Linked DNA regions of Homo sapiens: region 1 is linked to region 2. Evidence: fine-mapped expression QTL. A gene starts in region 2. The other region holds a variant in brackets. All regions are shown on one strand. Distances are between the middles of the regions. Region 1 has its middle 92 kb from the start of TBC1D2B. Region 2 holds the start of TBC1D2B (TBC1 domain family member 2B).

What was found. PIP is the estimated chance that this variant, and not a neighbour inherited with it, causes the effect. A credible set is the group of variants that fine-mapping cannot tell apart.
Region 1: its variant is the best candidate, but not a certain one, in a credible set for the expression of TBC1D2B in lymphoblastoid cells (GEUVADIS, PIP 0.68).

What each region holds. Positions count from the first base shown.
Region 1 is chr15:77,983,446-77,988,811 of GRCh38, reverse strand. It overlaps the pseudogene ADAMTS7P3. Among named protein-coding and RNA genes, the nearest start is that of TBC1D2B, 92 kb to the left of the region's middle. The variant T/C (reference allele first, on the strand shown) is at 2,823.
Region 2 is chr15:78,074,323-78,079,688 of GRCh38, reverse strand. It overlaps TBC1D2B (TBC1 domain family member 2B), which reads left to right and starts at 1,978. Exons shown (of 13, transcript NM_144572.2): 1 at 1,978-2,396. The coding sequence starts at 2,037. RefSeq lists silencers at 1,693-1,742, 1,893-2,102, 2,303-2,502.

The sequences.
Region 1 (5,366 bases), 91 kb after region 2:
CAGGTGGTGTTGGGTCTCAGCGCCTCCTCGCAGAGGCCTGGCTCCGGGCAAGTCACCAGATGCTGCTGCTCACCACCGCCACAGGCCTCGGAGCACTGGGTGGGCAGGGAAGGAGTCAGGGCACAGCCAGGGTCTGAGGGCATCCCCTCCCCCGATCTGAACCCCCAGGCCTCACCTCCCTCCAGGAAGATGTGTAACAGCTGAGGCAGGGCTGGGCCCCGCAGGGCCGGTGTGCAGGCGGTTTGGCAGGCCCGGGCTGACAATGGAAGGGCTGCAGTGTCCAGAGGTCCCGTGTATCCACACACTGCACGTCCTGCACTGAGGAACCTCCACCGCAGCTGCGCGAGCACTGGGGACCAAGACACCCACGTGCAGGCCCACGGGTGTGACCCTGTGAGGCATGTGGCGGGAAAGGCATCAGACCCACGCCCCAGCCCGGGGAAATATCTGAAGAACCCCAGCGAGAGGCCAAGGCTGGCAGGCCCCAGGCAAAAGGTGGCATGGCCAGAGACTGCCATGGGCTGGGACAGACAGAGAAAGGGAAGAACAAAGGCAAGCTAGTGAAAGACAAGTCCAGATGGGGTCAAAGATACAGAGAAAAGGAGACAGGCCAAGCCAGACAAAGATGAGAAGACTCCCAAGAGATTCAGAATCCAGTGAGATCGGGCACACAGACGTGCAGCCTGGAGCCCTCCCCTTCCCTGCCGCTCTCGGAACACAGGCCGTGGGGAACCAGGGCTCCACCCCATGCCCTGGGAATGCCTGTCCTGGCTCCATCCTCACGCACCTTACTCCAGTTGCCTGAGTGCCAGGTGGCACAGGGCTGCAGGTGGCAGTGGCGGGCAGGCTGGGGCCGGCCAGCGGGGGTACAGTCCTCATCCCGGCCAGAGCTACAGCGCACCGGCCTCCAGACCACACCCAGGCCGCAGGTGGTAGAGCACTGCGGGGAACAGACCCGTGAAAGCCAGGCAGATCCCATCCCCACCAGGCCTCCACAGCCAGGAAACTACCCACCTAGGCTAGCGAGACCTCAGCAAGACAGGAGACCTCAGCAGGACAGGGGCCCTCTTCTGGGCCTCAGTTTCCTTATTTGCAAAATAGGCTCCTCCACCCACCTCCCAGGAAGACTGTGAGGATGAGAAGTCAAATCCCCCCAGCAACCAACCATCCCTGCTCACATGGGACAAAGGGCCTGTGTTCCAGCGTCATTGGTGCAGAGGTGGGGGGAGGGGACCCTGTGGGCACCCCTGACCAGCTATCCTGACCATCCTCATGGCTTCCCAGAGGCACCAGGGAAGGAAGGCTGGGTCCTGGTGCCAGCAGCCAAATCGCTGAGTAAAGCTTCAGCCTACCCCATCCCACCTCCAAATTAGGGATCTGAACAGAAGCTTCTTCTCCTGCAGTGACCATCTGGGGACCCAGGGAGGGGCACTAGCCAGCTTCTTTCTTGCAGCTCAGACCCCTGCAGGTCACTGCTAGAGGAGGGCGGAGCCAGGTGGCAGTGGGCTGAGCCCAGCCTGGAGGAGCCAGGCAGAACCTCAGGGAAGCTGCGGGGCCGGCGGCCACGCGGGGACCCTCCCCACTGCACAGCTGTCTGAGCCAGCTCCATCCTGGGGCGTGCTGTGCTGCCAGAGTGTGCCTGCCCCTGCCTTCCCTGAGGCCCGCTGTGCTGCCCAGGAATGGGCCCCGGGGTCCCCTCACCCCCCTAAATCCTGGGAACCCCTTCCCCGAGGGAGGCGAGACAGACGGCCCGTGTCCCACTCTGCTCATTTTCAGTGAAGAAACAGTCACCAAGGTCCCCCGCAAACTCCCTGCCCGCCCAGCCCACACCACTTGCCTCGCTCCAGTTTCCCGCTTGCCAGCTGGCGTTCCTGACAACCAACGGGTCCGCGGGGGGCCCCGCTTCAGCCAGGCTGGGAGGCAGTGGCTGGGTCTCAGGGGCTCTGTGGCTGTTGGCGGGGCTGTCCCAAGCTGGTGTGGACAGCAGCCTAGAGCTCAGGGGCACCTCAGGGCTGAGGGACTCAGGCTGACCCTTGGGTCCTGGGTTCAGGGCAGGCTCAGGCATGTGCCCGAGGCCAGTCAGGGTTGTGGGGAGGAAGGTCCCCCACACTGCCACAGTCTGCAGGTCCCATGAGCCTGGTCCTGGGGTTGGGAAGGAGGGAGTCCCCGGCTCCAGGGAACTGTCCCTGACCTTCATCTCTGGCAGAGGGGCTATGGGAGGAGGAAGGAGAGAAGCCACCCCAACAGTGGGCCACAGTTCACTGTCCACAGGCCCCAGACCACCCTCCAGAGCTGGCTCCCAGGCCACTATCCCTCCTGTCCACAGCTCCGCCGCGTCGGGACTAGGAGAGGAGTGGGTGCTGCCGACAGGACAAAGGGGGCAGCGTGGGGCTGGGTCTCGGGGGCAGGTGGGGTGCTCCACGGCCCTCGGGTTCATCATCCTTGAAAACCTCATTGGTCCTGCCCCGCCATGGAGGGGGCAGCTGGCTCTGGCTGTCCTTGCTAACTGGGAAATCATTTTGGCTATCAGGGGCAGCAAGTGTCTGCAGGCCATCGGTAGAAACCCTGGGCCAGGGCAGGCTGGAGAGCCCAAGATCTGGGGCCCCTATGGGGGCATCTTCCTCAGGCAGGAAATTGATCAAAGGGTTCCCAGGGGTCTGCTCTGAGGGCGGGGATGGGAAGCAGCCGGCCTGGCTGGGCCAAGGGCTAAGGGACCAAGGTCCCGGTGCCCCCTCCTCCTTGGCTGCAGGAGGCTCTGTGGCAGGCACGGGGCTACCCGTGGAGGGTGCAGGATGGCTGTGTGGTGGGGGTGTCCGGTCCCC[T/C]GTCCCCACCAGGTCTAGATCGGGTTCCTCAGAGGGCCCATAGGACAGATCCTCGTGGAAGTTGATGCAATTGTAGTCATAGTAGAAGTCGTCCACCAACATGGGCCCCGGCAGGTCCAGCTCTGGAGCCTCCTCCTCAATGGCGTTGCCCATGGTGCCTGGCTTGGGTGATGAGGCAGGTGAAGGGCGTGGGGCCAGGTGGCGCGGGATGAAGTCAGCCTCATTGAAGAGCTCGTGGCTGGAGGAGCCGCTGCCTGAGCCTTCAGGGCCCAGTGTGCCCAGGGGCCATTAACAGAGTGGCAGAGAGCAGGTGACTTTGCTAGCTGGCTGCTGGGCCTCGTCACAGGGGACACCGATGTCATTGGTGCAGAGGACATTTCGGCGCTGAGTGCCCTCCCCACATGTCACTGAGCACTGCAGGGGAAGCCAGGGTGAGGGGGCTTAGGAGTGGCAGAGACCCCAGCCAGCCCTCTCTGGCCCTGCCCAGCTCAAGGCCATGACTATGGCCATGCTTGCCAGGGGCTTCCTGATCCCTGAGGCTTTAGTCAGGGGCTGGACCCTGGAATGCCCAGACTCCCTCCCACCCACGAGGGCTCCAGGAAGGCTGTCTGCCTCCCGATAGCCGAAGACCAAGGGTGGAGCTGGAGGTGGGCCCTCTCCCATCCCACGCTCAACTGAAACCAGTTCCCCACAGCCCAGGTAGCCAGACAGGGCACATGGCAGTTGCAAGGGGTTTCAGTAGGGGGCCAGGGAAGTGTTCACAGGCGGGTGGCCCCAAGGCACTCTGCTCATCCAGCCCCATGCTGCGGATGCAGAGCATGGCCCGGCAGGAGAGGCCCCCAGGCCCCGCAGGAGCTGGAGCACGGCTGCCACTCACCTGCCCACCACCTGGCGGGGGCACATGGGTGGCATCAGCATGGCATCAGACGGGTGGCATCAGCAGGCTCTTCAGCAGGCTCACCAGCAGGGAATGGGCTTCCAGGCCTTCAGGGTTTGGGTAGAGCTGGGACTGAGGCCAGTGGTTGATTCTCCAGAGATCCAAGCCCAGGTAAGTTTCTTGACCTCAAAGCCTGGTGACATAGCACAGCCCCTCTGCTCCTGCCACCCTCCCCTCAGGGAAACTGAGCATGACCTGAGGCCTATTTCCACATCCAGGGATCCAAAGAAGAGGACCACAGGTGTCCAGGCTGGCCCAGGCTGGCCTAGGCTGGGGTGAGGGGTGACCTGGGGTGAGGGGTGACCTGGGGTTAGGGCTTCAGCCTTGGGAAGAGAATGAAAGCCCAGCTCCCTCTGCTCCCCCCCGGGGTCTCCAGGGACCCAGATGTAGGGGCCTGTGGCAGACCCAGGACACCTGGGGGTGGGGAGTTGGCAGGCGATGGGGGTGGGCTCACCTGGCAGGGCAGGGCTGCTCGCTGCACTTCCTCTGGCGGTCATCAGGCCGGCCCAGGGGATGACAGTGCTCCTCGTCCACAGGTCCTGCCTGCCGCTCTGAGCAGTACACACTCTGCCTCTGCACACCTAGGGGCCATGGGGCTCAGCCTGGGACTGGCACCCAGGTGCCCACCGCCCAAGACCCAAAGACACTCTCTCTGCCAGAACAGCACCTTACTGCCTGTGTCAGGATGAAGGCAGACCTCCACCGTCACCTCCTCGCTGTCCTCCTGGTTCTCATACACCCCCTTTTCTCCTATGTAGCCTCCCCTCTGGCTGTGCCTGGAGGGGTGGCAGAGTGTGGAGTTTTAGTGGGTTGGGTGCCCAGACCCTCTGCTTCCTAGCTGAAACCATGGGCAGCTCATTTGGCCTCTCTGAACCTCAGTGTCCTCCTCTGTGAAGTGGGAGCAACAATCCTGCCTCCTCCAAGCCCTGGAGGGAGGACTGCATGTGTTCTTGCATGTGTAGGCTCGGCCCTTGCCCGGCACATCCTAAGAGCTCGATCCATGCCAGCTGCTGCTAGCATGCAAACCCAGCCGTGGCGTCAAGGCCGTCCCACCATCCACACCCTTCCCAATGGCTCAGAGAACGTCTGGACAAGAAATGGGGCATGAAGGGACAGCCCCTGCTCCCCACCCCCACACCAGCCTTGGCACTGCTCCTGTCCTTCACACCCTCTGCCACCGCCCACCCTGGGGACTTTGCACAGCCACGCTCCTCACCTTGGACACTCACTTCCATACTGCCTGTTGAAGCCCAGCTGCAGGACCCCCTCTGCTGGTGGCTCTGCCTTCTCTGCTCCACCCCCTGCCCCGTGGTCCCGAGAGTAAGTTGTCCCTCCCCCGAGCTGCCAGTCCCACACTCATTCCCCTCTTTCCTCACCAACAGATTCCAATTTTGCTCAAGGCAGCAATGGGACCTGCTGAAAACACACCCCACTGACGCTCCCTTGCAACTAGGGGGGTCTGGGACAGTCCTGGCTTGGGAGAAAAAGGCACAAGTCCCTTGCTGGGATTCAGCCCTTTCCCCTCTCCTTCTTCCTGCCCAGAACACTGCAAGAGCCCTGGAAGGGAGGACACCATCTGTGGCAAGCAGGAGTGAAGGGGAGGCTGC
Region 2 (5,366 bases):
CCCTGTTTTATAAATGAAGAGACTGAGGCCCAGAGAGGTTAAATCACTTGCCCAAGGTCATGCCTCTGGTAAGTGGCAGAGCTAGGAGACACATCTGGTCAGTGTGAAGTCAGAGCCCAGTCCTTAACACTGTGCTGATTGTGCTCAAAGACAGGTGGAGAGGTCAGCCACACCTCTGATGGGCCCCAGGAAAGGAATGCTTGCGTGGTGCCACTTTAGGGCCTGCAGAGAGTCGGCAGGCTGGGTGAGGACCCAGAACCTGCCCTTCCTACCTGGGTGGCTCCAAACAGGCAGTCTAATTTGTGTCCCTGTCCAGCTCAGAAAGGTCAGTTTTCCACCTGGGTCTTTCAGTGTGTCTGTATAAAACATGCAAATCTATGAGGGTGAGATATTTGGTTTGGGCTTTCACAAATGTAGCTATGTAGCTATACACTTCCTTTTTCCTTTGAATAAAGTGAGCTCTTGTACTCACTATTCCCTCTCCCTGGAATGCTTCACCCACATTTCTGGTTGCCCCTGTCCCTCCCATCATCTGGGTTTGTGCTCCATGTCACAGGATCAGACCAGCCTCCTTGCCTGTCCTGGGGCAGCAGCCTGCTATCTGCCCCCCATCACTTCATCCTCTCACTTTGCTTTTTACTTATTTTTTATTCTTGTGGGAACATAGTAGGTGTATATATTTATGGGTTACATGAGATATTTTAATACAGGCATGCAATGCATAATAATCAAATCAGGGTAAGTAAGGTATCCATCACCTCAAGCATTTATCCTTTGTGTTACAAACAATCCTATTATACTTTTTTTTTTCTTTTTAGACAGAGTTTTGCTCTTGTTGCCCAGGCTGGAGTGCAATGGCGCAACCTCGGCTCACTGCAACCTCCACCTCCGGGGTTCAAGAGATTCTCTTGCTTCAGCCTCCCGAGTAGCTGGGATTACAGGCATGCACCACCACGCCCAGCTAATTTTGTATTTTTAGTAGAGACAGGGTTTCTTCATGTTGGTCAGGCTGGTCTCGAACTCCCGACCTCAGGTGATCCACCCACCTCGGCCTCCCAAACTGCTGGGATTACAGGCGTGAACCACCGCGTCTGTATTATACTCTTTTGGTTATTTTTAAACGTACAATTATATTATTTTTGACTGTAGTCACCCTGTTGTGCTAGCAAATACTTGGTCTTATTCATTCTTTCTCTTTGCTTTATTACAAAGCAATAGATTTGCCTTCTCAGGTTGTGAGTGTTCAAATAAGTTAGTCTATAAAGCACTGATAAATACTAGGTGCTATTTTAAGCGGTAATCATTTACATGTCATCACGGCATTTATACAACATAGCACACATTACTTTTATCTGCTTTCTTGTGTGTCACCTCCCTGCCTTACTAGAATATAACCTCCACGAGGGCAGGAGAATGATTGGTTTGTTCACTGCTGTATCCGCCAGGGCCTGGCATACAGAACCGTACCCGGCATTCAGAAGGCGCTCAATAAATATATGTTGAATTCAATAAATGAACTGAGGTCTGGAGAGGCAGGAAACGCTTTGGCTTTCATGAATTCTGCAAATATTTACTGAGCACCCACTCAGCACCAGGCAATAGGCTGTCTCATTTTTACAATATTAGCTTGAGACTCTGGCAGGAGGGAGATTTAAATATCAAGTTTTTAGAATAAGATACACAGTGTGAAATGCAGTTTTAAGCGGACACTCCGCTGGGTTTTGAGAGATGCACACTCCCATGTACCTACACTGCCATAAAGAAATAGACCATTGCTTCATCCGGCAGGGCGAGGACTTGGAGCCCAGGTGGCACGAAGGCAACTGACCCGCGGGGTGCTGGTCGCAGGACCCTGCCTCCGGGGGCTGAGGGGGCAACGGCCGGCGGGCGGGCGGGGGCGAGACTACAAGTCCCAGGGTGCTTTGCGCGCCCGCGGGCCGTGCGGAGCGAAGGGGCGGTGCGGAGGGGGTAGGGGGCGCAGCGGCCGCGGCGCGGAGGCGCAGGGCGCGGGCGCCTACGGTTGGCGCGCGGTAGCGATGCCGGGGGCCGGAGCCCGGGCGGAGGAGGGCGGCGGCGGCGGCGAGGGCGCGGCGCAGGGGGCGGCCGCGGAGCCCGGGGCGGGTCCGGCGCGGGAGCCAGCGCGGCTGTGTGGCTATCTGCAGAAGCTGTCGGGCAAGGGCCCCCTGCGTGGCTACCGCAGCCGCTGGTTCGTGTTCGACGCGCGCCGCTGCTACCTTTACTATTTCAAGAGTCCGCAGGACGCGCTGCCCCTCGGCCACTTGGACATCGCGGACGCCTGCTTCAGCTACCAGGGCCCCGACGAGGCGGCGGAGCCGGGCACGGAGCCGCCCGCGCACTTCCAGGTGCACAGCGCGGGAGCCGTCACGGTGCTCAAGGTGGGACCGCTCGCCCCAAAGCCGCCCGCGCGCTTCCGCCGGCGTCCCCTGCCTCCGCCACTGGCTTGCGCCATCCACCCTCCTTCCTCCAAGGCCTCCTCGCCCCTGCCCACGTCGGCCTGCCTTTCCCTGCTTCTCCACATCCCGCCCTCGTTCCTATCTCCTCCCCACTATCTGGGCTTAGGCCAGTCTCGCTGGGGCTACCAAGCCCCGTCTCCTTTCTCAGACACCTTGACCCATTATCTCCCTCTGCGCCTAACCTCGGGCCAGTCTCTGGTGTCTCCCGACCCCCACCATCCCGTGGATGTCCTGTGCAGCCTTCCCAGGCATCCGTGAGCGTAGGCTTCTACCCCTGGGGCCTCCTTTAGAACTTTGCCTATGGCCTTGGTACCTCAGTGAACCGCTCTGGGCTGCAGCGGCCTCCTCTGTAAAATGGGATAACAGTAGTATCTACCTCATGGGGTGTTGGGATTAAATGAATTATACTTTAAACTGCTCAGTAAATGTCAGTGCTTTTATTTATTTGTTTATTTATTCTTTTTGAGACAGGATCTTGTTCTGTTGTCCAGGCTGGAGTGCAGGGGTGCGATCTCGGCTCACTGCAGCCTCCATGCCTGGGCTCAAGAGATCCTCCCACCTCAGCCTCCCAAGTAGCTGGGACCACAGGTGCGGGCCACCACGCCTGGCTAATTAAATTTTTTTTTTTTTTTAAAGAAACGGGGGTCTCACTATGTTGCCCAGGCTAGTCTCGAACTCCTGGGCCGAAACCATCCTCCCCATCCAGCTTCCCAAAGTGCTGGGATGCCAGGCGTGAGCCAGAGTGCATTTAGCACTGTAGACAGAAAGAGTCAGATGGCAGGGCCCTTAGAGACAGTCCACTACATTTTCCTCCAGAGTGGACGGGGATGCTCCAGCTAAGGTCACACAGCCAGTAGGTGGCAGATCCTGTGTTCTTCCTCCTTGCTTTGTCCAGGATGGGTGGGAGGGGGTCTTTTCAGCCAGTTATGCCTTGCTCCTTTGAGGCTCCCTTAATCCTCCAGTGGACAGACAAAATGAGAGATACAGTGTAGAAGCAGGAGAGTAGAGTCAGGAGTCCTGGTGCTGAAAGGCCTCCCCTGTCCTTGGGAGTTCTGGGGGACTAGACTGTCACCTCCTAGGGGCCCACCTGCTTTGAGCATCTGGAGGGATCTGGGCCCAGGCCTGGAGCTGGGTATCCTTTTTCCAGGCTTTGCTCCCTGCCTGGTTTCTGTGAGTCTCCACCCTCACTCTCACTCCTCTTCCGTATTCCAGGTTGGGCTTTCTCCAGAGCAACAGGGTTGGGCTGGGATGTATGAAAGTGCTCTCAAAGCTGGCCACACGGAGAGCAGACTAGGCAAACTCCTGGCCTTGTGAGCTGAGGACTGTTCCTCAGACCCCCAGAGCTGCTAACAGCTGGAGCTGCTCCCTGGAGATGTTCTTAGAGCTTTGCTGACTCAGCTTTTGCCAGTTCAAGCAGGATCTGATTCCCATGTTCTCTTGGGCTCCCCTGTCCTGTCTGTAAGTGGGTGCAGACAGCCTGTTTCCCCAAAGAAAACCAACTCGGGTTGCAGTCCTACACAGGCTTACTTAGAGAGTGCCTGTATAAACTTGGTAATGACCCTAGTGGGAGACCTTTGCCAAAGGCAGAGGCTCTTCCTCAGTGTACATACGGGCTGTCCCTGTGTCGGACGAATTTCCTGTGGGATGTTTGTTAAAGAAAATAGAGCATCGTGTTTCACATTTTTCCCAGATGACTGTAGAACTCTATCAGTTTTTTTCATTAAAATAATCTGAATCTCCTGTAATCCCAGCACTTTGGGAGGCCGAGACGGGTGGATCACGAGGTCAGGAGCTCGAGACCATCCTGGCTAACACGGTGACACCCCATGTCTATTAAATATACAAAAAATTAGCCAGGCATGGTGGCGGGTGCCTGTAGTCCCAGTTATTCGGGAGGCTGAGGCAGGAGAATGGCGTGAACCCGGGAGGAAGAGCTTGCAGTGAGCAGAGATCGCGCCACTGCACTCAGCCTGGGTGACAGAGTGAGACTCCATCTCAAAAAAAATTAAAAAAAAAATAATAAATAAGAATCTACATAAGCAGGGTTACAAGGCGCATTGTCAGAAGTGTGGCTTTAAACTTCGATGGACTTGAACTTGAAGCAGGAGTCTGCTGCTCACACATATTGGACAAATTACACCAGTTCCCTGCTCCAGTTTCCTCTTTGGTCTAGTGGGAATCATACCTTCCTCATTAGGTGGCTGTGAGGATTCTGGAGAATGTTATGGAAAATGGCTGGCGCATTTTCCATAGTGGTATGGAAAATAGTAGGCACTACATGGCATATGAAACATCAAGCAGTGTCTTTGGCCAAATATGTAGTGTATTCATATAGTGGAATATTATGCAGTAGTAAACAAAGGTACTAGAGCTATAGGTGTCAACGTGGATTACTCTCACAAACAATAAAATTGAACAAGAAGTAAGTTACACACTGATTGTGTTCAGAATGATACCACTTATAGAAAGGTTAGGAAGATCATGTGAAACAGTACTACAGATCATAAGGATGTATGCTCTTTCGCGAGGGGAAGAGCTTTATGGGGCTGATGAGCTCTGGTTTCCAGGTAGTGGTTGCCTGTGATGGGAAGAGGGAGGATGTGATTGGGAATGGGTGCCTCAGGGCTTCTCCTGTTTTGCAGTGTTTTATTTCTTGGACTGGGTCATAGGTATATCAGTGTTTGTCCTATTATGCTATCCATCTTTTTGTAGGTTCAGAATATTTCTTTTTTTAAAGAAAGGAAATACATTTTCCTTTGGGTTACTGACAATGGAGGAATATTTTGACATGTAAAATTAAATTGGTCACAGAATAAGATAGTACCGAGTGTTGGCTGTATACAACAATGGGAATGGAAATCAGGCAAGGCTTTCTGGAAGAAGGGAGGAGAA